Linked DNA regions of Homo sapiens. The protein of the gene in region 5 purifies or fractionates together with the protein of the main gene of each other region. This does not show direct contact. Each region holds a gene or a part of one and is shown on either strand. Other genes may lie near its edges. The genes, in order: TAF4, CLSPN, NOP14, ILKAP, LTN1, IVNS1ABP and PFKFB3.

The links.
Region 1: the proteins of LTN1 (region 5) and TAF4 purify together in Homo sapiens (affinity purification with mass spectrometry, with the first as the bait; one large-scale study listed by BioGRID). This does not show direct contact.
Region 2: the proteins of LTN1 (region 5) and CLSPN purify together in Homo sapiens (affinity purification with mass spectrometry; one large-scale study listed by BioGRID and IntAct). This does not show direct contact.
Region 3: the proteins of LTN1 (region 5) and NOP14 purify together in Homo sapiens (affinity purification with mass spectrometry, with the first as the bait; one large-scale study listed by BioGRID). This does not show direct contact.
Region 4: the proteins of LTN1 (region 5) and ILKAP purify together in Homo sapiens (affinity purification with mass spectrometry; one large-scale study listed by BioGRID and IntAct). This does not show direct contact.
Region 6: the proteins of LTN1 (region 5) and IVNS1ABP purify together in Homo sapiens (affinity purification with mass spectrometry, with the first as the bait; one large-scale study listed by BioGRID). This does not show direct contact.
Region 7: the proteins of LTN1 (region 5) and PFKFB3 purify together in Homo sapiens (affinity purification with mass spectrometry, with the first as the bait; one large-scale study listed by BioGRID). This does not show direct contact.

The regions. Positions count from the first base shown.
Region 1 is NC_000020.11:62,055,643-62,060,173, reverse strand, and holds part of TAF4 (transcription initiation factor TFIID subunit 4), read left to right. Parts: intron 1-4,531. UniProt on the Homo sapiens protein: The TFIID basal transcription factor complex plays a major role in the initiation of RNA polymerase II (Pol II)-dependent transcription.
Region 2 is NC_000001.11:35,735,479-35,740,009, reverse strand, and holds part of CLSPN (claspin), read left to right. Parts: intron 1-480; coding exon 481-645; intron 646-752; coding exon 753-874; intron 875-1,427; coding exon 1,428-1,555; intron 1,556-1,912; coding exon 1,913-2,018; intron 2,019-2,588; coding exon 2,589-2,671; intron 2,672-2,934; coding exon 2,935-3,096; intron 3,097-3,403; coding exon 3,404-3,514; 3' UTR 3,515-4,531.
Region 3 is NC_000004.12:2,939,386-2,943,916, forward strand, and holds part of NOP14 (nucleolar protein 14), read right to left. Parts: intron 2,967-4,531; coding exon 2,807-2,966; intron 2,345-2,806; coding exon 2,197-2,344; intron 261-2,196; coding exon 142-260; intron 1-141. UniProt on the Homo sapiens protein: Involved in nucleolar processing of pre-18S ribosomal RNA. Has a role in the nuclear export of 40S pre-ribosomal subunit to the cytoplasm.
Region 4 is NC_000002.12:238,179,142-238,183,672, reverse strand, and holds part of ILKAP (integrin-linked kinase-associated serine/threonine phosphatase 2C), read left to right. Parts: coding exon 1-20; intron 21-1,486; coding exon 1,487-1,608; intron 1,609-4,531. UniProt on the Homo sapiens protein: Protein phosphatase that may play a role in regulation of cell cycle progression via dephosphorylation of its substrates whose appropriate phosphorylation states might be crucial for cell proliferation.
Region 5 is NC_000021.9:28,982,552-28,987,082, forward strand, and holds part of LTN1 (E3 ubiquitin-protein ligase listerin), read right to left. Parts: intron 4,384-4,531; coding exon 4,180-4,383; intron 3,687-4,179; coding exon 3,588-3,686; intron 2,372-3,587; coding exon 2,141-2,371; intron 1-2,140.
Region 6 is NC_000001.11:185,298,066-185,301,274, reverse strand, and holds part of IVNS1ABP (influenza virus NS1A-binding protein), read left to right. Parts: intron 1-78; coding exon 79-303; intron 304-716; coding exon 717-838; intron 839-931; coding exon 932-1,058; intron 1,059-1,144; coding exon 1,145-1,276; intron 1,277-1,391; coding exon 1,392-1,565; intron 1,566-2,986; coding exon 2,987-3,209. UniProt on the Homo sapiens protein: Involved in many cell functions, including pre-mRNA splicing, the aryl hydrocarbon receptor (AHR) pathway, F-actin organization and protein ubiquitination.
Region 7 is NC_000010.11:6,229,890-6,234,420, forward strand, and holds part of PFKFB3 (6-phosphofructo-2-kinase/fructose-2,6-bisphosphatase 3), read left to right. Parts: intron 1-3,005; coding exon 3,006-3,053; 3' UTR 3,054-4,531. UniProt on the Homo sapiens protein: Catalyzes both the synthesis and degradation of fructose 2,6-bisphosphate.

The DNA.
Region 1 (4,531 bases), on a different chromosome or scaffold from region 5:
AGCAGAGCCACCCTGGCTTCCAGGACTGCCCCCGGGCTCCCCGGTGTGCTGTGGAAGTTGCCCCTTAGACATCAGCACAGGGAGGCCGGGAGGCGGCGTCTGGTCAGAGCAGCACAGACCGGGCTCAGCAGAACAGACTGGTGGGCGTGTCCGCATCCCGAAATCAGAGTGGAATGGAGACAGTTCCTGTTCTACCTCCAAAGCCTTTTCTACTGTATAATGTGAGTTTTCTTCCACTTAAGGGATAAATTTGAAGAAAGCTTTTATAAATTGTTGGTTGTAAGTGAGTTGATCAAAGCATAATTAGCAGCTGTGTTTGAGGATCTTGAAGCAGAGGTGTAACAGGGCTCTGGAGAAGCTTGCCTGAGATTTGGGGTAATTTGCAGGGTTCCCGAAGTGCTTTGCTTTTCTTCTTCATGGTGCTCAGTAGGAACCTCCAAGCCCTCGATCATCCAGGAAACAGTTGCTGTTTAGGGTGTTCACCTGTGGTGCCCGGCTCAGGCAGCGTGATGGGGGCGTTTACTTAATCAGGCCTTTGATAGCAATAAAGCAGTTAAATAAAGGGGGCTTTTGGCTGCAGGCCCTTCTGTGCCGAGTGCTGTGCACCTGGGCTTCCTGGACGCTTCTGCTTCCAGGTGGGCCTGCGGTTGCTATGGCATTGTGGTGTCAGCTGCAAACACGTACACAGCTGTTCTTTCCAATTCTTGCGTGGAATAATGAAGTAGAATAAGTGCTGTCAAGTTATGTTCGAAAATGGGGTGCTTAATATTTCCATGGTTGGACCATGAAAGTTTTGAGTGAAAACTTTTGATTTTTACATATCTCAAATGAACATTTGCACCAAAGATGTACAGCTTTCGAAAAACAAAGAGATACATGTTGTCCACCATGAGGCCCCTCTCCCATTTGAGAAAGTACCTGGTGTCCGCTGTTGGTCAGTCCGCGGTGGTCCCAGGCTCTTCTCCAGGCCTGCCTTCTGCCTGGAGCAGGCCATGCTGCAGTGTGCAGGATGATGTAGTGAAGTGCCCCCAGCTTCTCCCACCGTGGGTGTCATGTTGTGGAGCAGAAGTTGTCGTTGGGAACCGCGTGTGAGGGCAGGAGAAATTGTTTGTTGGGAGCCGCATGTGGGGACAGGAGAAGTTGTCTGTTGGGGACTGTGTTTGGGGACTGGAGAGGTTGGCCCCCCGAGCCCCATTGTCTGTGGCCTGGTGTGTAGACCTGTGTCCGTCCTTCCTGAGGTCTTGCTGAGGTTGGCCCCCGAGCCCCATTGTCTGTGGCCTGGTGTGTAGACCTGTGTCCGTCCTTCCTGAGGTCTTGCTGAGGTTGGCCCCCGAGCCCCATTGTCTGTGGCCTGGTGTGTAGACCTGTGTCCGTCCTTCCTGAGGTCTTGCTGAGGTTGGCCCCCGAGCCCCATTGTCTGTGGCCTGGTGTGTAGGCCTGTGTCCGTCCTTCCTGAGGTCTTGCTGAGGTTGGCCCCCCGAGCCCCATTGTCTGTGGCCTGGTGTGTAGGCCTGTGTCCGTCCTTCCTGAGGTCTTGCTGAGGTTGGCCCCCCGAGCCCCATTGTCTGTGGCCTGGTGTGTAGACCTGTGTCCGTCCTTCCTGAGGTCTTGCTGAGGTTGGCCCCCGAGCCCCATTGTCTGTGGCCTGGTGTGTAGACCTGTGTCCGTCCTTCCTGAGGTCTTGCTGAGGTTGGCCCCCGAGCCCCATTGTCTGTGGCCTGGTGTGTAGACCTGTGTCCGTCCTTCCTGAGGTCTTGCTGAGGTTGGCCCCCCGAGCCCCATTGTCTGTGGCCTGGTGTGTAGACCTGTGTCCGTCCTTCCTGAGGTCTTGCTGAGGTTGGCCCCCCGAGCCCCATTGTCTGTGGCCTGGTGTGTAGACCTGTGTCCGTCCTTCCTGAGGTCTTGCTGAGGTTGGCCCCCGAGCCCCATTGTCTGTGGCCTGGTGTGTAGGCCTGTGTCCGTCCTTCCTGAGGTCTTGCTGAGGTTGGCCCCCCGAGCCCCATTGTCTGTGGCCTGGTGTGTAGACCTGTGTCCGTCCTTCCTGAGGTCTTGCTGAGGTTGGCCCCCGAGCCCCATTGTCTGTGGCCTGGTGTGTAGACCTGTGTCCGTCCTTCCTGAGGTCTTGCTGAGGTTGGCCCCCGAGCCCCATTGTCTGTGGCCTGGTGTGTAGGCCTGTGTCCGTCCTTCCTGAGGTCTTGCTGAGGTTGGCCCCCCGAGCCCCATTGTCTGTGGCCTGGTGTGTAGACCTGTGTCCGTCCTTCCTGAGGTCTTGCTGAGGTTGGCCCCCGAGCCCCATTGTCTGTGGCCTGGTGTGTAGACCTGTGTCCGTCCTTCCTGAGGTCTTGCTGAGGTTGGCCCCCCGAGCCCCATTGTCTGTGGCCTGGTGTGTAGGCCTGTGTCCGTCCTTCCTGAGGTCTTGCTGAGGTTGGCCCCCCGAGCCCCATTGTCTGTGGCCTGGTGTGTAGGCCTGTGTCCGTCCTTCCTGAGGTCTTGCTGAGGTTGGCCCCCCGAGCCCCATTGTCTGTGGCCTGGTGTGTAGGCCTGTGTCCGTCCTTCCTGAGGTCTTGCTGGGCCCTTTGTGTCCCCCACTGGGCATCACTGGAAAGCGCCGATGTGAGGAAGGCACACGTGGCATCTTGATCTCAAAGTTGTGAGAGGAGCGTAGCCAGGTAGGGTGGTGTTGGGGTACATGGATCTTGGAGGGACCATTTCCGAATAGTCAGGAAACCCCAGAAACAGTTTTTTCTGTCTATCAAATTTGACATTAGGTTTTAGAATGAGGGCCCTGCAGTAAGAAGGTCTGTGGCTCCCAAGGGAATTGTTTCGGGGTTGGGGTCAGAGGTCTGAGTGGACAGTGCGTGGACAAGGCAGGACACTAGGAGCCAGGGAGCTGAACCCTTCTCTGGGCGCTGGGTGTGGCCCAAGCACACCTGGGGCAGAGGCTTTGTGGGTCAGCTGGTCCACTGGGGGCTGCAGACACTGTGGGCAGAGGTGCTGCCGGTGGCAAGGTGGGCACCTTGTTCCATGGGGTCGGGGGACACAGCCTTTCATTTTCTGACTTTGCAGTAAAGTGTGTGGGACAATGACCTGTGAAAGTTTTTAAAGGAAGTTCTGTGTCTTCTGCGGAGGAGCGTGGTCTCCGTGGTGTTCATAGGAGCCACGCACGGTGCTCAGAGCATGCCCAGAACGCACAGGCCTGCCTTGCTTTGGAGCTTTGCAGAAGGTTACGAATGTCAGTGTCAGAAGCATCATGACAGGAACAAGGGTGACACGGGAAGCAGGCTCGATTGGCTTTTTTATGTAACTGTAAGTGTAAAAAATTATTAGTTACTTCAACATGATTTTTTTGATGATAAAATTAGTTTTTTTTTCATTATAGGAAGTTTGGGAAGTAAACTGTAAAGAAGAAAATACAGTCACTTGTAACGTCACCTGGCCCAGACTGCTAAAATTTCGGGGTGTCTCACTTCAGCCTGTGTCTGCTGCATATCTGCTTCTGTGTTTTTCTGTAATTACAGTTCTCCTGTGACCCAAGTCTGTGCTTTGCCTTGTCCTGTGTCTGGTGCACTTTCCCTTGGCCCTCGGTGGTCTCAGGCTCCAGCATTTGGTAACGGCCCCTGTGCCAGGGTGCTGTGCTGATGGCGACAAGTGGCCCCCTGTAGGTGAATGCCTTCATGTCTAACTGTGTGTGTGTCTGGTGGGTTGAGCATTTTCAAGGCTTTGATACATATCACCTTCCACCAGATTACACTTTTAAAACCATTGCCAGAATACGACTTTTGGGAATGGATACCATTCTAAAGGAAGAAAATCGTGTCTAGTTTTAAGTTGCATTTCTTTGAGTGAAATTAGACCTCGTTCATGTGGATGTTGGCTATTTATTCTCGCCAACTGTGCCTATTTGTATAAGCGCGTTCTTGTTTTTTTCTTTTTTTTCGAGACAGAGTCTCACTCCATCACCCAGGCTGGAGTGCAGTGGCGCAATCTCAGCTTACTGCAACCTCCGCCTCCCGGGATCAGGTGATTCTCATGCCTCAGCCTCCCGAGCAGCTGGGAATACAGGCATGTACCACCACACCCAGCTAATTGTTGTATTTTTAGTAGTGACGGGGTTTCACCTTGTTGGCCAGGTTGGTCTCGAACTCCTGACCTCAAGTGCTCCGCCTGCCTCTGCCTCCCAGAGTGCTGGGATTACAGGTGTGAGCCACTGCGCCTGGCCTGCATGAGCACATTCCGAGGGTGTGTACTGGGCCACGGGGGAAGGCTGATGAGGGTACCAGGGTTCAGCTGTGGGGGGTCCCAGGCTGACAGCCCCTGCTTTCATGGTGTGTCCGTTGTGGGGGCCAGGCAGTTAACAGGCAAACAGATCAGCAGGAATGTCTGATTGTGATTAGCACCCTTGGGTGAGAGGGGACTGCTGGGCAGGGTAGTCAGGGAAGGCTTTCCCAGGAGGCTGAGGGATGAGAAAGGGGTCAGCCACATGCAGCTGGGACCTGTATCCAGGCCAAGGAAAGAGTAGATGCAGGGGTCC
Region 2 (4,531 bases), on a different chromosome or scaffold from region 5:
TCTAGCTATGTGACCTTGGGTAAATGTAATCTTTCTGAGGCTCAATTCCCTCAACTGTAAAATGAAGAGAATAATAGTACCCATTCCTATGATAATATGTTAATGCCTGTAAAGCACAGTTATTAGCACACAAGACATATTAAGTGATCAACTTTTAAATACAGATGCTCCACATCTTACAATGGGACTATATCCTGATCAATCCATCATAAGTTGAAAATGCACTTTCATATTATCCAGATATAACTCCATCGTAAATCGAGAAGCATACTAAGTGCGTATCACATTCATGTCATCGTAAAGTTGAAAAATCATTAAGTCAAACCATCATAAGTGGAGACTATTACAAAAAAATTTAAATATTATCAAATGTATTATGTTTATTATTATTAGAAGTGACTCTGTTCTGCTTTTCTTTGCTTCCATATTCTGTGAGTATATTCATTGTTGCATTTTCTAATCCTCAAAATTGCTTTCTAGGAGGTTGAGGAAATACCTGGAGGATGAGGCAGAGGTGTCAGGAAGTGATGTGGGAAGCGAAGATGAGTATGATGGGGAAGAAATTGATGAATATGAAGAGGACGTAATTGATGAAGTACTTCCTTCTGATGAGGAACTGCAGAGTCAAATCAAGAAAATACACATGTCAGTATCCCAATAAGCCCTTCTGAGTAATAGGGTACATCTTAAGACAAGCCCTGTAACCAGCCAGAATGGTCCTTGTTTTGAACACCTTATTTCTCCTGTTGCAGGAAAACTATGTTGGATGATGATAAGCGACAGCTACGTTTATACCAAGAGAGGTACCTTGCTGATGGGGATCTGCACAGCGATGGTCCTGGGCGAATGAGGAAGTTTCGATGGAAAAACATAGGTATCTTGGTTGTTGTCTTTAAAAGCAATCAGTTACGGGCTGAGCATGGTGGCTCACGCCTGTAATCCCAACACTTTGGGAGGCAGAGGCAGGTGGATCACAAGGTCAGGAGTTCAGGACCAGCCTGAACAACATGGTGAAACCCCGTCCCTACTAAAAGTTCAAAAATTAGCAGGCTGTGATGGCACGCGCCTGTAATCCCAGCTACTCAGGAGGCTGAGGCAGGAGAATTGCGTGAACCCGGGAGACGGAGGTTGCAGTGAGCAGAGATCATGCCATTGCACTCCAGCCTGGGCGACAGAGCGAGACTCCATCTCAAAAAAAAAAAAAAAAAAGCAAACAGTTACAATGCATATTTGTCGAGTTTCAGATGGCAAATGGCAAGCAAAACTATAACAGGCTATGTGAAGACCTAGTTGTAACTGTTTTCTGTTAATGGATGGGAAAAGTTTACATCATTATATAGTAAATGATAAGGGTTTATTTTTTGTCTGTCCAAGCACCCTCTCCTGTGAGGACTGCCGAATGCTGATTACCTTCACTCTTTGTTTAGATGATGCTTCCCAGATGGACTTGTTCCACAGAGACTCTGATGATGATCAGACTGAAGAACAGCTTGATGAGTCAGAAGCCAGGTGGAGGAAGGAGCGAATTGAACGAGAGCAGTGGCTTCGGGACATGGTAGGAGTTCACCTACTCTGACCCTAGTTTATGAGACTGTCCCTTAGCTTGTCATGATAGTTTCAAAATCTTAGCTTGTCATGATAGTTTCAAAATCTTAGGCAACATATTGCTATCTCTTTTAATCCTTGAGCTATCTTTTGTGTTTTGAGAAGGCTATACCATAGACAGTTCTCTTCATGTTTGTCTAAGATTAATTTTTTTTTGTCTAAAGCAGCAAAGGCTGCAAAAAGGAAAACAAATACCCCAGGAACTCTAGTTTCACAATCCAGGCCATGCTAACTATTTAGGAAGGTTATAGACTTTTAATGCTGTATATATATATATATATATATATATATTTTTTTTTTTTTTCAGGCACAGCAGGGGAAAATTACAGCTGAAGAAGAAGAAGAAATTGGGGAGGACAGTCAGTTTATGATACTGGCCAAGAAAGTTACAGCCAAAGCACTGCAGAAGAATGGTGAGCTCTTGTTTCTCCTTAGGGTCTAGCCCCCTGGATTGTTAGTGGTAGAGCTTTGGAGGTGACTCTAACCTTCAGGAGCTGTTGCAGCTTAATCATAAGCTTGTGTCTAATACTGTCTTAAAGAGGCTTCACAGAGGTGGTGGGAGACAGTGTACTTAGATCTTAGACTATTGGGCAGTAGAGACTGTATTCATGAGTATATGTGGCTGGTTTTACTTTATGTTCTAAGGCTCAGAGTAGTTAATTCTGGCTTTCTCTAGTTGCCCAGGATTGTATACCTAAGTGTTAGAGGTAGGATTTGAATCCAGGAATATTTAACTCCAGAAATGAAGCTCTTCACTATTCCCTACACTGACCACTTCTGTTTTTCTTAAATGATTACTGTTCAACTTAGTTGTGTCTCTTCTTGGAGCCAATTATTATAGTTTGAAAGTCACCATTATATAGAACAGAGTTCCCATGGCTTTAGCATATTGATTTAGTTACAAGATTTCTTAGCTTGTTTAGATTTAAAAGTAATTCTAATCAGCTTTTCCCAGAATAGGCCTCTCTGTCTTTTCTTTCCAGCCAGTCGCCCTATGGTTATTCAGGAATCAAAGTCTTTGCTCAGAAATCCTTTTGAAGCCATCAGACCAGGAAGTGCTCAACAGGTTGGTTGGGAACCTTGTTAATCTGACATCATAGTCTACAGGTTATAAAGGCCCAGGTCCAGCTTAGAGAATAGTCTCTGTCATTAGAGGAAGGAGGTGGCTGCAGGGAAAAAGTTAATGTCAAAGGAGTCTGCTATTTCTTTTCTATTTGAATAGGGTAGGCATATGTACCCTCAATATCTAGGGGGAAGCAGGGAGGGAAGGACTTTTCATTCTTTAGTTGGCACTTGGGATTTGATACCAGATGACTCTTCTTTCCTCAGGTGAAGACAGGCTCACTGCTAAACCAGCCCAAAGCTGTGCTTCAGAAACTGGCTGCTCTCTCTGACCATAACCCCAGTGCTCCTCGAAATTCAAGAAACTTTGTCTTTCATACACTTTCTCCTGTCAAGGCTGAGGCGGCAAAGGAATCGTCTAAGTCTCAGGTATGGAATTTGAGAACTAATATGGTGGCTTCCCAAACCAGAATTTATTCATTTATTTAAATTTAAAAACAAAAATTCTGGCTTAACCTCTATGCTGCAATGTTGAAATCTTGCACTCCCCGATAAGGTACAAGAGAATTGCTACCCCAGTCGGTAATCAACTTTTAAACTTGCCGAGAAAGTTTATCTTTCTTTCTTTTTTTCTGTTGTTAATCATCCACAATTTATGAGTTGCTTGAGAGCTAATTGAAGGTAAATACTTGTATGAAGGTCTTTAGCTGGCCCTGACTCCCTCTCTGCTCTCTAGGTAAAGAAAAGGGGTCCATCTTTCATGACTTCTCCTTCACCTAAGCACCTCAAAACAGATGATAGCACTTCAGGATTGACGCGAAGCATCTTCAAATATTTGGAGAGCTAACACCATCAAAGGTGCCAAAATCTACATTGAGACTGCTTTGAGAAGTTTCTAGCACTGAAAGTTGGAATTGACACTCCAGCCAATGATCCTTCCTTCTTTCATAATCAATGCAATAAGATTGCAGACAGAAATTCCAGTGATTTCTACTGCACAGCTCTGGACATCTCTTTTCCTAGTATTATTCCCTGAATTGGCCACTGATTTCAATTCTGCAGTATTTACAACATCAACAACTCATGGAATACTTGGGTGAGGTTTCCTTTTTTTTTTTTTTTTTAAGATGGGAGTCTCACTCTGTTGCCCAGCTTGGAGTGCAGTGGCGTGATCTCGGCTCACCACAATCTCTGCCTCCCAGGTTCAAGCGATTCTCCTCCTTCAGCCTCCCGAGTAGCTGGGATTACAGGCATGTGCCAATACGCCCAGCTAATTTTTGTATTTTTAGTAGAGACGGGGTTTCACCATGTTGGCCAGGCTGGTCTTGAACTCCTGACCTCAAATGATCCATCCACCTCGGCCCCACAAAGTGCTGGTCACATGCATGAGTCACTGCACCTGGCCTTGGGTTAGGTTTCACTTCCTCCATTAGACATTTGACATTTTATTGTAGCAGCTTTCTGGGTTAATATCTCTTTGTGATTGATAGAAGTGGTTGGAAGAGGAAGAGTAGGGAAAAGTGTGACATTACAGATTAAACAGTGAAAATCAGTACCATAATGACTCCTTTACACCCATGAGATACGTACCATGATGACCAGGGCTCGGTGAAAGAAAGATTTCTTTTTTTTTTTTTGAGATAGTCTCACTTTGTTGCCCAGTCTGGAGTGCAGTGGCGCAATCTCGGCTCACGGCAACCTCTGCCTCCCGGGTTCAAGTGATTCTCCTGTCTCAGCCTCCCAAGTAGCTGGGACTACAGGTGCATGCCACCACACCTGGCTAATTTTTGTATTTTTAGTGGAGACAGGGAGTCACCATGTTGGCCAGGCTGGTCTCGATCTCCTGACCTCAAGTGATCCAGCT
Region 3 (4,531 bases), on a different chromosome or scaffold from region 5:
CCACCTCTCAGCCAGAGCCTGCTTGGGAGTGTGGCTTCACTCCGTAGTCATCTGCTCAACTGCAGAACTGGCAGACGCCCCCCGTCAGCTCCCACTGAGCCCACAGCCCTGGCCTCCCAGGGAGATGCTGCCAGCACCCACACTTTGACCAGCCGGGGTGTGAAAAGCTTCAGTGGGACAGGCTTGCTCTTCTCACAGGTCAGCGGCCGGCAGAGCTGCTTCTGGCTTTCCATTTCGGTCAGTGTGCTCTGACACAGCTCCTGAAAAACACGAAATCCCCGACTCTGCGATGACTCACCTGCTGCGTGCCCTGAGCTCCACGCACGGGTTCTGTGGTGTCAAGGCAGCGTGAGGACAGTGCTGCGAGCTCCCTGCAGCAGGATGGTGCCCTTGCTGTGCGCCTACCGGTGGGCGGGGGGGTAAGCCAAGGCTGTGGCTGCTCAAGTCCTGGCACAGCCGGAACGAAGTAAAGCCACTGTCTTCTTGAAGAGGGAGGGCCGTGGGCTGGCCCCTGAGAGCACTCTCTGAAAGGAGGGGACTTGGGGAGTTGGAGGTCACCATAGCCTGTGCTCCTCACAGCCAGAAACGTCAACAGAACCCCTCTTTCCCAGACAAACTTGGCACGAAAGGCCGTGAGCCACTTGCTTCGTGAGAAGGCTCACAGGAGAACCCCTTTCTGCCGCGGGGGGCCGTGTGCATGCTAGAGCCCAGTGTGCAAACTGACGCTGGGTGCTAGGCGGGGCAGGGTTTCCACCAGTCTTGGCAGTTTGACCTTATTTTCAAGCCAACAGAACCAGATGGTTAAGACCCATTTTCACCAAGACCTTGGCTTCCAGAAGAGTTGGCTGGTGGCTTCTGAGGAATCTCCCGAAAGGTAGTTCACTGAGGTTGGTCCTACCCGCTTTCTCCTGCACAGGTGTGTCCTGGAACCCTGGCTGCACCCACAGATACAGCCACTCCTGGGCCCATGTGGATGTAACCTTCGAGTGCCGGAATGCCTCGTCTCCATGGAGACCAAACTCAAGGGCCTGACTGGCCCAGTCTACCGAGACCATGAGACCTGCTGTGCCCCTCGGCCAGGCCAACCCAAATTCTTTTAAATAAAAGGCACAAGCCACAGCCACACCAGCAGGAAGTGGATACAGGATAAGGGGCAGGGCTCACATCTCATCCTCATCAGCCTTTGACCAGGCGACGGAGTCTGTGATAGCTAGCTTATCTGCTCTATGCTCCAGGGACCTGGCCGGAACGAGCCGAGTTGCTGTCCTCATGGAACTCTCATCCTAGTGGGGCAGAGACAAGGACGGTGTAACGTGCCCGGGGGTCAGCACCACAGACAAAACGCAGGGAGCACGGCACAGTGTGGGCCAGGGAAGGCCTGGCTTCCCAAGGGTGTGGGCGCGAGCAGCATGGCTGTGGGGAGTTCTAGGTGCAGAGAACTACTCCAGAGACGAAGCCAGGCCTGCGAGGAGGCCGGAGCGCATGAGGGGAAGGCACGAGGCAAGGCTGCCAGGGCTGTGCTGGTGGTGCGGGACGGTCCTGTGGGGGTAGCTGCGGAGATGGCACTGATGCCTTCGGCTCCAGCAGCATCCTGGGCTGGTGCGGGCCAATAAGGGGCAGGGTTGGGGCAGGATGAAAGGCACAAGCCACAGCCATGTCAAGCAGGAAGTGGATGCAGGGTACAGCCTGTCAGGGTCAGGGTGAAAGGCAGGGAGGCGGGTAGGCCATAGGTGAATTTGGAGCAGCCTGTAGAGGACAGGATGTGCCATCAAAGACTTGTTCTTGGGTCCAGCTGAGACTGTCCCTTGGGGCTTCCTGTCACCTTGTGCAGGATAGTGAGACCATCCTTGGAAAACCCATCGGGACTGCAGAGCGCGGCTCAGAGCTGACTGTCCAGGCCTGGCAGGGGCTGACCCCTGGGCGCTGGTGCACCCTCCGTGCGGCCTCTTGGAGGAAGCACACAAGGCGACAGTTCCCAGCTGCCGCCTGAGATGCAGCATCTGCTTTACTCCAGCCCAGCACTGCTCACCGTCACTGCCCACTCTTATGATTTTACTTCCCTTCATATTTGTGATTTTGCAAAGATGGTGTTGACTTACAGCTGCAGCATCAAATGACTGACTGCCACCAGCTTGGCCCCAGCTCAGGGACATGTCTGAGCCCAGGCAGAGCACCCTAGTGGCCGGGAAGCCTCACCTGGAGCTCCTGCGGGTGGCTGCAGTCCGCCAGGTGATCCGTGAGGAGGGCTTGGAGAGGCCCCATGATGGCGTGGAAGGATGGCAGGGACCCGTACATGAGCACGCAGCGCTTCAGCAGGGCCAGGCCCACAGCCAGGCAGGACAGTCTGTGAGGGCAGGAGGCAAGAGGAGGTCCAACTTGTTCTGTTTGTCACTGACAAAACCAATAACGTGGCAAAAATGAACTTCCCCACTTCCACTAGGCTGAAAACTCCAGTGTGGCCACCTTGGCCGGCCAGGGTTGGGCCCATGCAACCACGGGCAAGGCAGGCTCAGGGTCAGGCCTAACGCAGGAGGGGAGGCTGTGGGAACCGCAGCGCCAGCTGGGATGGGGCGGCTCCATTTTTGGTTCCAAATTATGATTTGTGAAATCAAGCAAATGTATTTTGAAAATGAAAAGAAAAAGGGACAGCAAGCCAACATGCCTCAGAAAGGCTTTCGGCCTCCATCAAACCAAACGGCCGGGCGGCAAGTTCACTAAGAACAGCACATCAGAAAGCACGAGTGGCTTCTCCTGCCTCTGGGGACGCTGTAGGGCACAGGCCCCAAAGCGGGGTCCCCTCACATACCGGATGTGATTGGCCTCTGTCGAAGTTGGGGCCCTCAGTCTACTCGCCCAGCGGAGGGAGAGGCTGCTCTGCTGCCACGTGGCCACATCCTCTCTAGCAGACACCACGAGCAGTTCCGAGTTCTTCCCAAGCGCTCTGAAAGGGTGCACCAGAGTGGAACCTGAATTCCAAGTGCGACAGGACAGAGATGGCCTGAACATTACTGGGCTCCCAGCAGGCTCTGCGGCACCGAGCCTGTGGAAGTTCACCCTCTAACAGACGCACACCGATTTTTATGTTTCTGGGTTGTGCCAGACACTGAGGGTTTCAGCGTGGGCAGGGACACCTCAGGGGAGGGGAAAAGCTTTGGCAGGGGGCGCGGTGAGAGCCAAGTGCCTGATCCTGCCTGAGAGGCCTGCTGGCCACAGACTTCCTGGGGCCTACTAGGCACACATGGGGCTGATGAGGCGCTCAGGCCACATCCGGGAACAGACTGAAGTCCCTGCCCCTGTCGGGGAGACAGGCAGTGCACAGCACCCAGAGGAGCAAATGGACCAGACAGAACACGAGAAAGGAAAGTGGAGGGGCAGGAGGGAGACAGGAGAGTCAGTCGGGGGTGACGGTGGAGGGCGGGAGAGGCCTGAGGGGCAGACGTCAGCAAAGGCCTGTAGGACGCAGGAGTCAATTCACTCGCCACGGAGAAGGGCAATCCAGGCCGAGGGTGTGGCTACACGGGGAGGGGTGGAGAGTGGGTACAGTGGGGCAGAGGTGCCGGGCCAAGCGAGAGGGGAAGGCGTGGGTCAGGCCCCGCCCCACACTTCCCCAAAGCCGAGATGCCCACCCCTTCCTTGACTCCACCTGTGCCCAGCCTGTTCCGTCACAGCCCTTCACACGTGGGACTGCAGCTATCTACAGGTGGCTCTCCCGGAGGCAGGGAGCATGTGGGCGGCCGCGCCCCTCTGGCGCCCAGCACCGAGCCTGACAGACAGGAGCCTTGGGAGGCAGGTGGTGGCAGAATGGGAGCACTGAACCGGAAGAGTGGGCCAGACCCCTCTTGGAAGGGACTCTGCTGGTGGTGTGAATGATGCCACAGCACCTGCTCCTCAGGTCAGTCCCCTGGACATGCAGGCGCTTAGCACTGCACGGTGAGCTGGAAATAGAGGACAGGGGTCTGAGCCTTGAGGTCCAACCTCTGGTCAGGCTGGGAGAGGCGTCCACAGACATGGAAGAGCTCAGGAAGAGGCTGTGCAGCTCCTCACCCCCCAGAGGGAAGCAGCAAGTGCTGAGGAAGCATCCAGGAGCAGGGCTGGCATCAGGGGAAGGGGGAGGAGCACAGGGGCTGGGGTGAGGGCCCAGGAGGGCAGCCAGTGTGCAGACTGCTCCTCATCCCAACACTGCTCTTGCCGCCCTCGCTCCTGAATTCAGAGCGTTAAGAGAAGCGACACAGCAGCGCGGCCTGTGTGAGCTGCACGAGAACTTTCACACTGCCTTGTCGTCACGTGAGAAAAAGTAAAAAGTTAAGATTGATTTTAACAATAGACCTTATCTAACCCCAAATACCAAAATATTATGATTTTAACACATAATACAAAAAATTAAGATATTTTAAGTATTTCTGACACTAAGTCTTCGCCACTTGGGCATATGTCACAGGTAGGGTACGTCTCAGTTCAGACTCTGGCCCCTGGCAACCACGCTGGACAGCACAGGTCACCGGTAGCACTGCTTTTCCCCATGTGGCGCGTG
Region 4 (4,531 bases), on a different chromosome or scaffold from region 5:
CCAACCTCGGAGATAGTCGGGTATGTGGCTCTGGAGCCACCCACTTAGATGACAATACGTTTTATGGGGAAAAGACTTTAGCACGTACTTGTTGAATAAGATTAAAGTGATGGTGTCTGGTTGAAACCTTTCTTCTGGGGTTGCTGCAGAGTGTTCTGCTGCAGTTTAACTTCTGGGTAAGGGAACAGCAACTCAGCTAGAGGCTGTTTGTTCTCTGGGGAACTTACGCCCTATGATAGACTTGTGCTTTAAAACCCAGATCCCGTCTTTTTTGTTTCTTTTTTCCTCCCGTGGTTTGTGTGTGTGATGCTGTGGATCAGAATGTAATCAGTATGCAAGTAGCCTAAATCTTCTTTTATTTCCTTTCTCTGACCTTAGACAGTAATGAATGAAAAGCTTTAACCCCTGCCTATCAAAGTTACTGTGATTTCAGAGTAACTTGAGAGCTGTAGCTAGAAAATACCAGATGAGGTGCCATTCATCACCCGAGCCCGGTCCCTGGCTGAGGGAGAAAGCCCAGGGTGTTGTTCCCCCTGGTGACAGTCGTGGGGATGCTGTAAAGCCTAGAGGGTGCTGCTGCGGAAAGCTGGATGCAGACCCTGCCTCCTCTGCATCAGGACCATGTGTTCCGTTCCGTTGCCGCTTTTTCACCCGGCCTCCTTGCTCCCTAGGCAGTCACAGGAATCAAGTGACTGTCCACACTTAAGCAGCATCTTTAGACCCCTCCCCACGATGCTTCTGGGGGGATGATTCATCAAATACTAAGTGCTAGGGGTATGGCAGAGACTATAACAGATGACAGCCCCTGCCTGGTGGAGTTTACATTCTGGTGGCCCTTTAGTAGACTGGCCTTAGCCCACATGTGTTTAGACCACATGACTTCAGAAATAGCAAGAGGAAAATTGGCAAAAAAACAAAGACAGGAGTCAGACCCAAATTTGAATCCTGGCTCTGCTCTGTGACTTTATTGAGTTACTTATTCTTCGTGCCTCAGTGTCTTCCTGTAAAACAGACACAATGAACCTGGCAGGGGCGAGAACACCTGGAGGCACTGGTGTGGACGGCCTACCTGGCACTCGGCCAGCATGCACAACGCTTGCCCTCCTCTTTGCCTTCCATAGGCTCATGGACATGTCTCTGGCCTTCTAGACTCCAGGCCAAAAGGGACCTTGATACTTGTTGAGTGCTTCCTTTCATGTCACAAATGTGACAACAGCCAGAGTGAGCACTTGTCTGTAGTTATTCAGCAGAGTTTGTACCAGAGTTGATATCAAAACCAGGGGCGACTCTCTCCCTAACTGTTGTGTCTTTGACACTTCTTTGCTGCTTGATTCTCTGAACTTACGTTTATCAGCAGGAGGCTGAATGTGAAACTCCATTGTTAACTGTTTTCTTCAAACTCCATTGTTAACTGTTTTTTTCAACTGGTACCTTTAGATGCTGCGCCCACTGAATTTCATGACTATTACAATCTCCATCTTCCCAGGCAATCTTGTGTCGTTATAATGAGGAGAGTCAAAAACATGCAGCCTTAAGCCTCAGCAAAGAGCATAATCCAACTCAGTATGAAGAGCGGATGAGGATACAGAAGGCTGGAGGAAACGTCAGGTAACCAAGGGACTGAGAGGAGCTCATGGGAAGGAGGGCTGTTAGCTGTAGAAGGGTCCCGAGACCTTCAAGGAGTAGAACTTCCCCTGTTACGTAGTCTTCAGTGTGACGAGGCTCTGTCTGAGATCTAACACTGGTGACATAGGTGGATGACAGTTGTAGATTTCACATGTGTCCACGTGGAAGGAAACTTGCCTCCCTACATTTGCAAAAGGACAAATTCATATTTACCATTCACAGTGTTTTCTCTGTGCCTAGGAAGTTTCTTAAATACTGTCACTTTTCGTGGTGGCGGGCGCCTGTAGTCCCAGCTACTCGGGAGGCTGAGGCAGGAGAATGGCGTGAACCTGGGAGGCGGAGCTTGCAGTGAGCCAAGATCGCACCACTGCACTCCAGCCTGGGCAACAGAGCGAGACTCCATCTCAAAAAAAAAAAAAAACCAAAAAAAAAACCTGTCACTTTTCACATTGAATAAGTTACAGTTTTAGGTGAATTCTCCAGAGAGAAAATCTGAAGTAGTTAAGACGGGTTAAGTAATGTCTTTGGACTTCTTGGGAACAACTGGCACAGAGGACCATGTCTTACTTGGCTCTGTCTTTTGCAGTTTCATTTCACTCTCTCTTTAAATCTTTGAAAACCATATGTCTGCTCTGGTTTTATTATCTGCTTCTATCCAAGGCAGCTAAAGGAGGGCATAAGTCTTTTCTTTAGAATTCCACTTCAAGGACATTGCATTATGAATTAGACCAGGAGTATTTTCTGGTTTGTTGTACAGTTTGACTATTAAAATTTTATTTTCTGCCAGAGATAAGAGAGATGTCATCTCTTAGTATAAGACTGCACTTACCTATCCTTTGAAGTGTAGTTTCTCTTCTGTTGTTCATTTGGGGAAGCCTTTTTTATTGCTCCAGGCTGAATCTAGTCAGTGGTACAGGGAGGTTTCTGGAGAGTAGTTGGAACCCTTAGCGTTTGTTCAAAAAGCTCTTGGATTAGTAAGAAGCAGTTTCATTCACGGTCGCTGCAGTTTACATGAGCAGTGATGGGATTATAGGCCTGGTTTCAGGCCTCAAGCAGTGCTGTTGGCCCAGTTTTTGCCACCGTAACTACTGTCCTGGTAACTACTGTGGACAGTCATGCCTGAGAATGTGACTCTAACATGAGCGTAAGCATCACCTCTTCTCCCCTTTCTTGTAAGTTTTACATTCATTCTGCTTTTGCCTGAACTCCTTGAAAATAATTGGATACTGACAGTCCGATGGCTGAAAGTAAGGCCAGTTGTGTTGCAGTTGCTTCCTATATCCCAGTCCTTACCTGATTCAGAGAAGTGTTTACATGCCTTAGAGAAATCATTTGACAGTGTGGGTTTTGGGTGACTCCTTCATCTCAGAGAAGGGCTGAGGCTAAGAGACCAGCAGCGTGGGTCGCTGCCCCTGAGCAGCAGAGCCCTGTCGTGGTCTGTTCTCCTGCCTGAGGCCAGGGCTGGCTGCCCCACTCTCAGCTTTTATCATTAAATTTTTCAGACATACAGAAGAAACTTGACAATAGTAAAACATTTCCAAATCTACTAGCAGTGAACATTGTGTCATGTTTAGTCTGTATAGATGTGTGTCAGGCTGAGCTGTTTAAAAGTTGCAGATATGATGACATAACAGCCTAAATACTTAAGCATGCATCTCCTGAAGATAAGGACGTTCTTGACATAATTAGTGAGAATTTTCACACCTAAGACAATAATATTTCCTTAGGTTAAGTTATCTAATACCCTGTCTATATTTTTATTTCCCGAGTTATCCCCAAAGTATCTTTGTTTCAAACCAGGGTCTAGTCAGCATCCATGTCTGCCGTGGACTTGGCATTTCTTTTTCTTTTTCTTTTTCTTTCTTTCTTTTTTTTTTTTGAGAGAGAGAATCTTGATCTGTTGCCTGGAGTGCAGTGGCACGATCACAGCTCACCGCAGCCTTGACCTCTGAGGTTGAAGCGATCCTCCAGCCTCAGCCTCCCAAGTAGCTGGGACCACAGGCATGTGCCACTGTGCCTGGCTATTTTTTTATTTTTTGGTAGAGACAGGGTCTCTGTCTGTGTTTTCCAGGCTGAGCTAAGTGATCCTTCTGCCTTGGCCTCCCAGAGTGCAGGGAATACAGGTGTGAGCCACTGCACCCTGCCGAGACTCATTTCTTACCAGGCTTTGAACCATGTTATAGGCCAGCAGTTGTACAGAGTCACCAATATTCTGAACCTGCGTATTTTTTTACGGTGTTATTTCTGTATATTTCCTATAAACTGGAAGTTAGGTGTAAGACCTTCTTTAGATTCAGATGAGATGTTTTTAGCAATGTTTTATGGGGGATGCTGTATACTCAGTAGTCCTTCACTTCAGTAGGCACATAATGTGACCCTTAATTAAGTTGCCAAATCCCAGCACTTGGCTCCGGTGGTGACAGCCGGATGCTCCTGTTGCCTTGCGTCATCAGCAGGTAATCTGGGGAGGTTCACTGGTACCTTGTGAATATTCTGTTTCCTGTCAGCCTTTCACCTAATGGTCTTAGCATCCCTAAATCATTATTTCATCAGGGATGTCAAAGATGATTTCCATATTCTGTGATTCTTTTCACATGTATTAGCGGGCATTCTGTAAAGAAACTTCTTATCATCAATAAGAGAACATCATAGATTCTTCTAAAAAAGCAGGGTCAATGTTTCATTCTGTCCTTTATCCATTTGAAAGGAAGATAGTCACCTATAGTTGTGGAAATCAGTGTTTTCCTTTCACTCCTCTGCTTCTTTCCCTCCATCCTTCCTTTGTGAATCACTGTGTGCCAACTGACTATTCATTGTGTTGTAGTCACAGTCATGGGGTTTTCTGCTGCTCACTTGATTTCAGATATGGCCAGTGGAAACTCCTGCTGGCTGGTTCCTGTGTCCT
Region 5 (4,531 bases):
CCCAAGGTTAGCTGCTTTAGATACTTCTTCCCCACGCACCTATAAATACTCCTGACCACTTGTTCCTCCATTTCTCTTTCACACAGCAATGAAGTGAATGTGAATCTGGGAGATAAATTAGGCTCTGCTTTCCTCTCCCCTCTTTCTGTAAGCCTGCTTGCCCACAAAGAACACCATACATTGTGCTCTGCTCCATCACAGAGGAAGGTATGAGGTTTTCAAATATACGGAAGTCTGTTTCCTCCTGGGGTGCAGTGCAAGGGAGTCCACTGTTCCAGTAACTGCTTTATCAGCAATAACAATAACTAACACTTATTGAGCTTTTGCATGTGCCAGGTATTGCTTTGAGCACATTTTAGGCATTAACTAAATCAATCCTCAGAACTCCATGAAGTACAAGTTAATTCCTGCTTTATAGATTATGAAATGAAGGCACAGAAACTTGCCCAAGGTCACACACCTAGTTGCTAGCTGATGGCAGAGTGGGACTAGAACCAATGGTGTGACCCAGAGCCCATGTCTTATAGACAGTATGATATACTATCTATAATGCTGACATTTTGATTTTCATTTGCCTAACTCCTCTCTAATACATGGGTTTGGAACTGGAGACAGTTCAATGCCAACAGCTGTAATGAACTGTAACATAGCCAACTAAAGGGAAAATAAAATGGAAGAAATAACCCAATGTTCAATGATTAGTTATCCATCCATGACAAAGCCAAGAACAAATTTATTTTCTAAAGCCTATGAAGAGCCAAACTAGTTGTCTCAAAATCCATTTCCTAAAGCTCTTAGCGTCCAAACTCATGACACTTCACTCTTGTAACGTTTATAACTTGGCATTTTAAATCAACCAATGATTCTTATGCTACAGATGGGTTAGAAAACTCCATTTGAGCATATGATTAAAGCTACAAACCCTCTCTCTAGAAAAACACGCTTGGTACACCTGAGAAATGAAGAATGGAAGAACCTAAATGAGGTACTACAATCAAGTTATGTGTTGGGGAGTGCTGGGTGAAGAGATTAGATAGGGAAGCAGGGACCAGATCATGCAGAGCCTTGTATGTCAAGACAAGAAATTTGAACTTAAAAGTGTAATGGAGAGCCACAGGAAGGATGGCTAATTGAAAGGAGGAAGGAAAGCAGGGGGAGAGGGTCAGATGGAAATGTTTAAGTAGGGTTATACACAGGGTGTTGTGGAAACACAGGAGTACTAAATAAGGGAATAAATGCAAGCATAGATTTTTTAAAAAATTATCAATTCCCTCCTCACTTCTACTTCATCTACTTTTATTTCTCAATATAATTCTAACAACTTTGTTGTCTGGTTTTTCTAGTCCATATATTGGGAATAGAAAATGAAGGGGGAAGAAATGAGACACTACTAGAAACAGACACACTGAAAGCCACAAACAGGTATGGCTGGTAACTTTTTATGAGAAAGTTATGGCAAAAGTGTTAGCCCAGTGTGGAGAAACTTTATCTGAAAATGGGAGTATAAATTTGTTTGGCCTTTTGAAGGGCCATTTATCATTATAAAAAATTTTAATGTTCTTATTCTTTGGCCCAACATATGCTTACTAGAAGTTCTAGTAAGTATCACTCCCACAAGGGTATGAAGAGATCTACTCAAGAATGTTTACTGAAATAGCATTTGTTATGATAAAAATTGGAAAAAAATCCAAATGTATATTAATCTAAAAAGTTAAATAAACTACAGTACATCCATGTATAGTAATACCAGAGAGCCAATAAAAAGAAAAAGACACTAAGTTAGATCTGTATATATATATATATTGATATGGAAACACGAGAGAAAATAATTTTAGATTTATTTTTAGATATATTACTTGTTTAGATTACATAAAACATCTACTTTTTAAAAATATAATAAAGACTTCAAAATTAAAATGGAAAATTTAAATACTGTAGAAAGATCCAATCCAAAATGTTAATCTTGTTAAAGATCCAAAATGGTTATTTAACTAAACAGAATTTTAAAAAGGCAACCTTCAGTTGGAAATACTCTACTTACTCATTCCCCTACAATCCCAAGTAAAAGAGCTGTCATTATGCTTATAACCCTTAAATACTTAAAAAAAAAAAATAGATTCAGAATGATTCCAGAACTTACACTTGTAATTTCATCCTTACAAAATGCTATGGCTTCAGGTTGCTTGCTTGGAGGAAAAGCCGCTTCAAATGCATCTTTTGCTGCAAACGCAGCTGGTGTGTAAGTATCACACTGAGCCATTAGCCAATATCCCATTAAACTTTTTAAGTAGGGAGCCAACTGTTTCTTTACTTTAAGGATAAGTTTTTCAAAAGCTTGTTGTGTGGCTTCTCGGACGCGACGGTCATGATCCTATTAAAAATATAAATGTGATTTAAAATAGCTCTAGCCCATAAAAACAATCACAGACATTTCCGGATATGCTATAATGACCCATTACCAAGAATTCACCTATGTATTAAGCTAAACTGAAATCATTTTTTTTAAATCAATAATTTGGAGGTTTTTAAATCAGAAACTATGTAAAATAATTTATTAATTTTTCTTTCTCCCCTTCTCCCAATGAGATAGGATTGTATTCAAGACAGATTCAAAGTTGGGCCTTGAGGCCGAGCCTGGTGGCTCGTGCCTATAATCTCAGTACTTTCGGTGGCCGAGGCAGGCGGATTATTGGCGGTCAGGAGTTCAAGACCAGCCTGGCCAACATGGTGAAACCCCGTCTCTACTAAAAATACAAAAAATTAGCGGGGCATGGTGGCACACACCTGTAATCCCAGTTACTCAGGAGGCTAAGGCAGGAGAATCACTTGAACCCAGGAGACAAGGTTGCAGTGAACAGAGATCGCGCCACTGCACTCCAGCCTGGGTGACAGAATGAGACTCCGTCTCAATTAAAAAAAAAAAAAAAAAAGTTGGGTCTTCAATAATTAAGCAACTCACTCTCATTCTTCTGCAGCAAATATACAGGGAATAAAATCACTATCAAAATTTATTAAAACTGGAAAGCACCTGGGTAATTCTCCAGTAACAACCTAATTTCTGAAAACAGACTTCCTAAATGTTCTTCATAACCCAACACAATCCAATCTTTTTTTTTTTTTTTTTTAAAGACATTGTCTTGTTCTATTGTCCAGGCTGGAGTGCAGTGGTGCAATCTTGGCTCACTGCAACCTCCGCCCCACCGGGTTCAAGCGATTTTCCTGCCTCAGCCTCCCAAGTAGCTGGGATTACAGGCATCCATCACCACACCCGGCTAATTTTTGTATTTTTAGTAGAGACAGGGTTTCACCATGTTGGCCAGGCTGGTCTCAAACTCCTGACCTCAAGTGATCTGCCCACCTCAGCCTCCCAAAGTGCTGGGATTACAGGCATGAGCCACCATACCAGGCCCCAATCTCTTTTTTTATTTCCACGCTCTTCTCAAGTGTTAACAATTCAATCTGCATAACAATGCTGACATAACATTTAATAACCCTCACCAAAAATCAACATTATAAATTTGAGAGTCTCCATGACTCCAACCAAAAAATATACAACAGAAATAAACTAGCAAAGTTTTAATACTTACAAGTGAAATTTTGCAAAAAATTCTTGGCCAATATGGAAGAACTCCTTTCACAGTTTCTGTGTCTCTCTCTGTACACATGGTTCCAAATTCCTGCATAGCCTAAAAGTAAGTTATTAACATCATTAGGATTAACAACCATAATAACTGGCTATAGATTATTCTGTTCTGGAAGCTTTGTCTATTTTATGTAATAGGAGAATACACTATTTCTCTTTATGCCATATGAGACTAGTTTGAAGAGCTCTTTCACAGGCTACTACGGTAGAAACTCTTCAGTTGTTTTTTTAAAAATAAAACATCTACAAACAAAAAAACCTCATTTAAAGTTACAAGGTCAAAGTTACATTCCCTAATGGGAAAAACTATACAGCCAAAATTCCAAAGCACTTTAAAAAAGTTCACTGTAACAAACTAATTTACGACCTAGAAAATAAATATCAACTAAGTTTAAGACTCTGTGTCAGAAAAAAGTACAATTATAAAAGAACTTAGCAATAAATTGTTCATTTTTCTTTACATAAAACATGCTAATGACATTTTATTTTAACAAAGGGATTTTCTTGATAATTTTTATGAAAACAAGAAAACTTGCTTTTAATTTTGTGGTGACATCTTTCTTTGAAAGTTTCCGCAGCACCATTCGGAAATCAGAATCTACAAGACTGTCAATTTCTTCAGCTCCTTGAATAGCAGGAACATAGCCTAGGTCACTCTGAGATGTTCCAAAACCAATAAATCCAGGCACTGTTCCCTGTTCTTTGGCAAGGAGTTCTGCAGCTCGGCCACTGTTTGAAGGCTGATAAGAAAATTACGGAGAAAAAAGTCAGAGTCCAGGAAGGGTTCAAAACTTAACTTTATAATTCCTTGGCTATTCCCATGGTCAGAATGAGCTTTTATTTTATTTTCTTTTTTCCTAGCCTAAAATTTCATCTATTGCAAAGTTC
Region 6 (3,209 bases), on a different chromosome or scaffold from region 5:
CTGGAGTCCAATTCAGGATCATATACACAAACCAAAAGTAATAATTACATCTTAAACATGGAACTCTTGTGCTTACAGATAACACTTACTTGTGCCTGGCTGTGCTGGATGGTATATTCTGTGTCATTTTTCTTCATGGGAGAAACAGCCCACAGAGCTCACCAACAAGTACTCCAAAACTAAGTAAGAGTTTAAGCTTTGAGATGCAACAAGATGAGCTAATCGAAAAGCCCATGTCTCCTATGCAGTACGCACGATCTGGTCTGGGAACAGCAGAGATGAATGGCAAACTCATAGCTGCAGGTAAGAACAGAAGCATTCAACTGGCTAAGCATGTAGATGGGCATTTTTGTGACATGCAAACTTTCAAAGAGAGGGTTTAATATGCCATCTTTCACGGCAATCCAATAAGATAGGGAAATAACAATACTATTGAATATGGCTAACCTTCAGTTCAATGTCTGTATCTAATTTTTAAAAAAATTATGTCATGGCTAAATTTTTCTAATATTCAAGCCAAGACTAAGCAGTTTATTTGTACTGATAATGCGATTTTTCAGCTATTACAAGCACTTAGTTAAAAGATCAACTAAGGCATCCTTAAAAAGTTTTAATACTTTTTCTCATTGTGCAGATTTCTTAAACTTACAGGACTGGAAACCGTGGTCCAGTTTAATATTTTAAACATAAATCTTTATGGTTTTATTTTTTACCAGGTGGCTATAACAGAGAGGAATGTCTTCGAACAGTCGAATGCTATAATCCACATACAGATCACTGGTCCTTTCTTGCTCCCATGAGAACACCAAGAGCCCGATTTCAAATGGCTGTACTCATGGTAAGCGCATTATGTTGCAGGAGCAACCCCTATTTAGCTTTTTCCTCGTAACTTCAGGATGTTAGAAATTCTCATCTCTCACTTTTGGCATAGGGCCAGCTCTATGTGGTAGGTGGATCAAATGGCCACTCAGATGACCTGAGTTGTGGAGAGATGTATGATTCAAACATAGATGACTGGATTCCTGTTCCAGAATTGAGAACTAACCGTTGTAATGCAGGTAATAATAGTTTTCTCCTGAGATATCCAGTATTTAAATATGATAATTAAATTATCAATATGTAACTTTATTTTATACTTACATAGGAGTGTGTGCTCTGAATGGAAAGTTATACATCGTTGGTGGCTCTGATCCATATGGTCAAAAAGGACTGAAAAATTGTGATGTATTTGATCCTGTAACAAAGTTGTGGACAAGCTGTGCCCCTCTTAACATTCGTAAGTTGATTTTTTTTCCTTTTTTTTTTTAAAGACCTTCAAATCAACAGTATGTGTAGTATACACTTAGAGTCTGGGAGATGTAGCAATAATCTTGACTTGACTTTTCTTGTAGGGAGACACCAGTCTGCAGTCTGTGAGCTTGGTGGTTATTTGTACATAATCGGAGGTGCAGAATCTTGGAATTGTCTGAACACAGTAGAACGATACAATCCTGAAAATAATACCTGGACTTTAATTGCACCCATGAATGTGGCTAGGCGAGGAGCTGGAGTGGCTGTTCTTAATGGTGAGTGTTGGGATTTGGAGAGGTGAAGAGTAGATAGTGGCAAGACTTTGTTCTAAAACTCTGAGAGAAAAGGCCAATGACTATAGTTGTACAGTTAAGAATTCAGAAGCAGTCATCTCTTTTGATGCAATGGAGATTAGGGTGATTTGTCCTTTAGAAATATATTTTCTAATCAAAGACTTATAATACTTGATATATAACTTAATTCACCAGTCTTTTGATGGGTGCACTGAGTGAATTTCCAAGTCATTTTCTTCTATAAAACATATCCTTAATGCATCATCTTGAATTTTGAGTTTCCCCTTCTTTACAGCCAGAATTTAAAGAATCTGATCTGCAAAACAAAGGCAAATCCCTAGTCTTTTCCAACTGTCTACTCCATACCTAATTGGAAATACAACCTTTAGACTATTTTAACAAGTTTCCAAAGTATTAAACTTTTTAAATGTAGACATAGCTTTCTTTCCACCTCCATTTTATTGACTTTTAATGTCTAATTATATAATCATAATTTAAAAGTTAGCATTGTTTTTGGTACCAGGCTGAACCTTAGCAGGCTTATGGCTCAACTGGTGAAGGCTTAAGTGTAGACACAGCCTGTTGGCCTAGAGCATTGTCAGCGTGCTTTACAGATACATAGAATGCAAGCTGGTTAAGTGATGGTCAAATGAAAAAATAATGAATTTGAGAATCAGTAATAAAATTTTTTCTAAGCTACGGAGTATTTATTGCTAACATTTTATCTATTTGAAAATAATCATAACTCTGTTTCCAGAAGAAATTTCTGTACCACAATCATTTTATTTTTTTAATTGAGACATGGTCTCACTGTGTTGCCCAGGCTGGTCTCGAACCCCTGGGCTCATGCAGTCCTCCCACCTCAGGCTCCCATAGTATTGGGATTATAGGCATGAGCCACCGCATCTGGCCCCAAAATCATTTTATACAGTTGGAAAGCCCTAAGATATTTTTCTGCTTTCCTATAATCTCTTCTGAGTCTTAATTCTGTACATTGGGCTGATATAAAGTCCAGTGCACAGAACTATTCTGGTTTGCTACTTAGTAGCTGCATCTGTAGGATAATTGTCCAGCTTCTTCCTGCTTTTCTTCTTCTCTGAAATAATAATAGTAACTACCACAGAGTTGGTGAAAATTGTACTTATTTAGATGCTGCTACTGCTTCCTCTCCCTCCCCCTTTTAAGTTGCCTAAGTTCCACGTGGGAATGGTTTTTTTATTGATTTGATTCCCAGCTCTTAGAGAGTATTTGTCATATTAGGCATTTAATAAATTCTTTTTGACAAAATGAACAGGCATTTCTATTTTTAAAACCACTGATTTTTAAGCAAAAGACAGATTTAGGGGAGTTTTACCTTATTACACTTTAATCTCTGGATTTACCCCATCTCATTTCTCTTTTAGGAAAACTGTTTGTATGTGGTGGCTTTGATGGTTCTCATGCCATCAGTTGTGTGGAAATGTATGATCCAACTAGAAATGAATGGAAGATGATGGGAAATATGACTTCACCAAGGAGCAATGCTGGGATTGCAACTGTAGGGAACACCATTTATGCAGTGGGAGGATTCGATGGCAATGAATTTCTGAATACGGTGGAAGTCTATAACCTTGAGTCAAATGAATG
Region 7 (4,531 bases), on a different chromosome or scaffold from region 5:
ATCCCTCGTGTGTGCTCCTCCGAGTCAGGTGGTAATGTTGGCCCACCCACCACCCACCTCCTGCTGTGTGGCCCGCCTCTCAGTGGGCTATGGACTGGGTACTGGTCCACAGCCCAGGGGTTAGGGACCCCTGCGTTAGACACGTGGCCTCATGTTGCCAGGAAAGAAATCTTTCTACTGGGAGGAGCCATTCGGGGATAGTCCCCCACCCGCTAAAGCTGATCTTACCTATCTCCAAGATGAACATAATAGTGCGTTTGCTAGAATCCCTCCTGTTCAGCAAAAATACATCCGATGGACCCATCACACCTGACTCAGGTTGGAATTTCACTCTGGAGTCCCATTGTCCCGTCCATCCTGGGTGCGTGACCCCACATCTAGGATTGTAGCCACATCTGATTCTAGGAGTCCACCTGGGCTCTGTGACCAGAATTTATGATGAAAGTCAGACCAAGCCAGGCCTGCATCTTGGTTCTACTCCTCCTGGCCTCTATCCTTGGCACTCTGGGCAAGTTAAAGCAATTCTAGGACCTCAGCTTCCTCATCTGTAATATGGAGATAATAACTTCATAAAGTTGTCATAATGAGACTATAGATACAGCACTTAGCACAATATCTGGCCCCTAGGAAGTGCGTGGGGGATGACGGCTGCTGTTGTTATCAGGGAGGAACTTGGTGCCCTGGGCCTGTGGAGACTTCTGGGCTTGCTGGCATTGGGTCAGCCTTTGGATACCCTCCTGTAACCTGAGGGATTTCTTCTCTGGGGCAGCAGGAACACCCAGACTTGGGGAGGGGAAATCCCTGGGGTCTCAAGGCCATGGCCTGAAGTCTTTTTTTTTTTTTGAGATGGAATTCTGCTCTTGTTGCCCAGGCTGGAGTGCAGTGGCGCGATCTTGGCTCACTGCAACCTCCTTCTCCCGGGTTCAAGCGATTCTCCTGCCTCAACCTCCCGAGTAGCTGGGATTACAGGCGCCCGCCACCATGCCCGGCTAATGTTTGTATTTTTAGTAGAGATGGGGTTTCACCATGTTGGCCAGGCTCGTCTCAAACTCCTGACCTCAGGTGATCCACCCGCCTTGGCCTCCCAAAGTGCTGGGATTACAGATGTGAGCCACCACGCCCAGCCTAGAGTCTTCACCCCTGTGATCTTGGTTTCCCAGTAAGATGGGGACGAACAACTGTCCGGACCTGGTGCTCTGGGGTGCCTTCCTGGGGGCTGTGCCGGCTGCTTGGGATCGAGAGATCACCTGGCATTTGTGATGCAACCTTCATTTTTAAAATTTCAAATGCACACTAGAAAATCCTACTAAAGATTTTCTTTTTTTTTTTCCTTTTCCAACCTGTTTCTTCCTCTCCCCCACTCTGCTTGAAAGACGAACTGTCTGTCACATTTTCTCAAAGTTTTCTCCTTACTAACTGTGGAAGGTAAATGCCTGGGTGCATGTCCCTCTGTCCCGCACCGCGTCACGGCATCTGGGTCTGTGTGCAGACTGGCCATCGTGCAATGCGGGGCTCATCTGTCTCCATGCCGAGGTTGTTAAGTGCAACACCATTGTCGTGAGGTCCTTTCTAGTCTGTCTCTCACCCCCCACGTGTCCTGAGCTGGGGCCCCTGGGTGAAGGACGTGGACATCACCCGGTCTTGCAGGCTCTCCACTGTTATTGTTGCATCGCCATCACCTGTGGGTGCCGGAAGCTGTGGGCTGGTGGTGTTGAGGACAGGTTGGAGCCAGCAGATGCGGAGGGAAATGTCAGCCCTGCTCTGTGATCCCACAGCCCGGCTGGGGCTCTCCCTAGATATGAGGACCCAGGGCTCTCTGAAGAGAATTGCCCCCTCCCAGTGGGCACCCATCACTTCCATCATCCTTCGGCGGGCACCCATCAACCCCCGCAGGCAGCCGTCATCCCCTGGCAGGCACCTATCACCTCCTGGTGGGCACTCATCACCTCCCGGTGGGCACCCATCACCTCCTGGCGGGCACCCATCACCTCTCGGCGGGCACCCATCACCTCCCGGTGGGCACCCATCACCTGGGTTCCTGAGTCTGGCCCACGCCTGGGCGATAGCTCTGATGCTGCCCAGCCCCGTGACTTTCCTCCCTGTGGATGGCTCCAGCCTTGGACCCCCAGTTCTGTGTGGGGTGGGCATGGGCCACGGTGGCCCTGTGTGCCTGGGCTCTCTCCCACCCTCTTTAGAGCAGTCCAGGTGGAGACACTCAGGACTGGAGAGAATAGTTTTAAACATTGTGTGTTTTCTTGTTTTTTGAGGCGTAGGTGAAGCAGGTCACGGAAGGAGGCCCGCTGTGCAGTGGCTGCAGTCAGTTGTGTTCCTCGCTGATTTTGGAGCATGTTTTTTTGCGGGGGGTGGGTGGCGGGGGGGTTTGGTACTGGCCAGTGCCTTAGGGGTGGAACTCCCTGCGAGGGCCACTGTGATCAGAAGTGGGGCAGGGCTTTAACAACACCCCTCTGCCTGGCTCCCCACCTGGGCCTCCCCACCACGTCCAGCCATTCCATGTATCACCTGTGTTCTGCCTGTCAAGCTCTGTTCCCAGAATCTGGATGCAGGAGCTGGGAGTGTGGCTCTGTTTTGAGCTGAGTCGAGAGGAGGGGCCCTGTGTGTCCTTGGAGGCCCCGGGCTCATCCTCTGCCTGGCTGTGGTTTGTGGGATTTCTATGGGGTCGTGAGCATGAGGCTCCTGTAGTTACTGGTGCCCAGCGCCGCGCAGCTCACGGTCCTCCAGGAGCCACACGGCCCCCACCAGGCGGGCTCCAGGCCTGGTGCCCAGCCCCTTCTCTGAGACTCTGGGGTTATCTTGCGTCATGTTCTGAGGCCCACCTGGGCTCTCTCCCGCCTGTGAGGTTGGCAGCACCTTTCTTGGATCATGTTCTTTGTCTGGGATGGAGGGAGGGAAGAATTCTCCGTTGCATGGCTCGCGTCTTCTGCTTTAGAATTCAGCCAGCTACAAATCCTAACTCCCTCCCCACCTCTCTTTTCTCCTGAAAACAGAACATGAAAGGCTCCCGGAGCAGCGCTGACTCCTCCAGGAAACACTGAGGCAGACGTGTCGGTTCCATTCCATTTCCATTTCTGCAGCTTAGCTTGTGTCCTGCCCTCCGCCCGAGGCAAAACGTATCCTGAGGACTTCTTCCGGAGAGGGTGGGGTGGAGCAGCGGGGGAGCCTTGGCCGAAGAGAACCATGCTTGGCACCGTCTGTGTCCCCTCGGCCGCTGGACACCAGAAAGCCACGTGGGTCCCTGGCGCCCTGCCTTTAGCCGTGGGGCCCCCACCTCCACTCTCTGGGTTTCCTAGGAATGTCCAGCCTCGGAGACCTTCACAAAGCCTTGGGAGGGTGATGAGTGCTGGTCCTGACAGGAGGCCGCTGGGGACACTGTGCTGTTTTGTTTCGTTTCTGTGATCTCCCGGCACGTTTGGAGCTGGGAAGACCACACTGGTGGCAGAATCCTAAAATTAAAGGAGGCAGGCTCCTAGTTGCTGAAAGTTAAGGAATGTGTAAAACCTCCACGTGACTGTTTGGTGCATCTTGACCTGGGAAGACGCCTCATGGGAACGAACTTGGACAGGTGTTGGGTTGAGGCCTCTTCTGCAGGAAGTCCCTGAGCTGAGACGCAAGTTGGCTGGGTGGTCCGCACCCTGGCTCTCCTGCAGGTCCACACACCTTCCAGGCCTGTGGCCTGCCTCCAAAGATGTGCAAGGGCAGGCTGGCTGCACGGGGAGAGGGAAGTATTTTGCCGAAATATGAGAACTGGGGCCTCCTGCTCCCAGGGAGCTCCAGGGCCCCTCTCTCCTCCCACCTGGACTTGGGGGGAACTGAGAAACACTTTCCTGGAGCTGCTGGCTTTTGCACTTTTTTGATGGCAGAAGTGTGACCTGAGAGTCCCACCTTCTCTTCAGGAACGTAGATGTTGGGGTGTCTTGCCCTGGGGGGCTTGGAACCTCTGAAGGTGGGGAGCGGAACACCTGGCATCCTTCCCCAGCACTTGCATTACCGTCCCTGCTCTTCCCAGGTGGGGACAGTGGCCCAAGCAAGGCCTCACTCGCAGCCACTTCTTCAAGAGCTGCCTGCACACTGTCTTGGAGCATCTGCCTTGTGCCTGGCACTCTGCCGGTGCCTTGGGAAGGTCGGAAGAGTGGACTTTGTCCTGGCCTTCCCTTCATGGCGTCTATGACACTTTTGTGGTGATGGAAAGCATGGGACCTGTCGTCTCAGCCTGTTGGTTTCTCCTCATTGCCTCAAACCCTGGGGTAGGTGGGACGGGGGGTCTCGTGCCCAGATGAAACCATTTGGAAACTCGGCAGCAGAGTTTGTCCAAATGACCCTTTTCAGGATGTCTCAAAGCTTGTGCCAAAGGTCACTTTTCTTTCCTGCCTTCTGCTGTGAGCCCTGAGATCCTCCTCCCAGCTCAAGGGACAGGTCCTGGGTGAGGGTGGGAGATTTAGACACCTGAAACTGGGCGTGGAGAGAAGAGCCGTTGCTGTTTGTTTTTTGGGAAGAGCTTTTAAAGAATGCATGT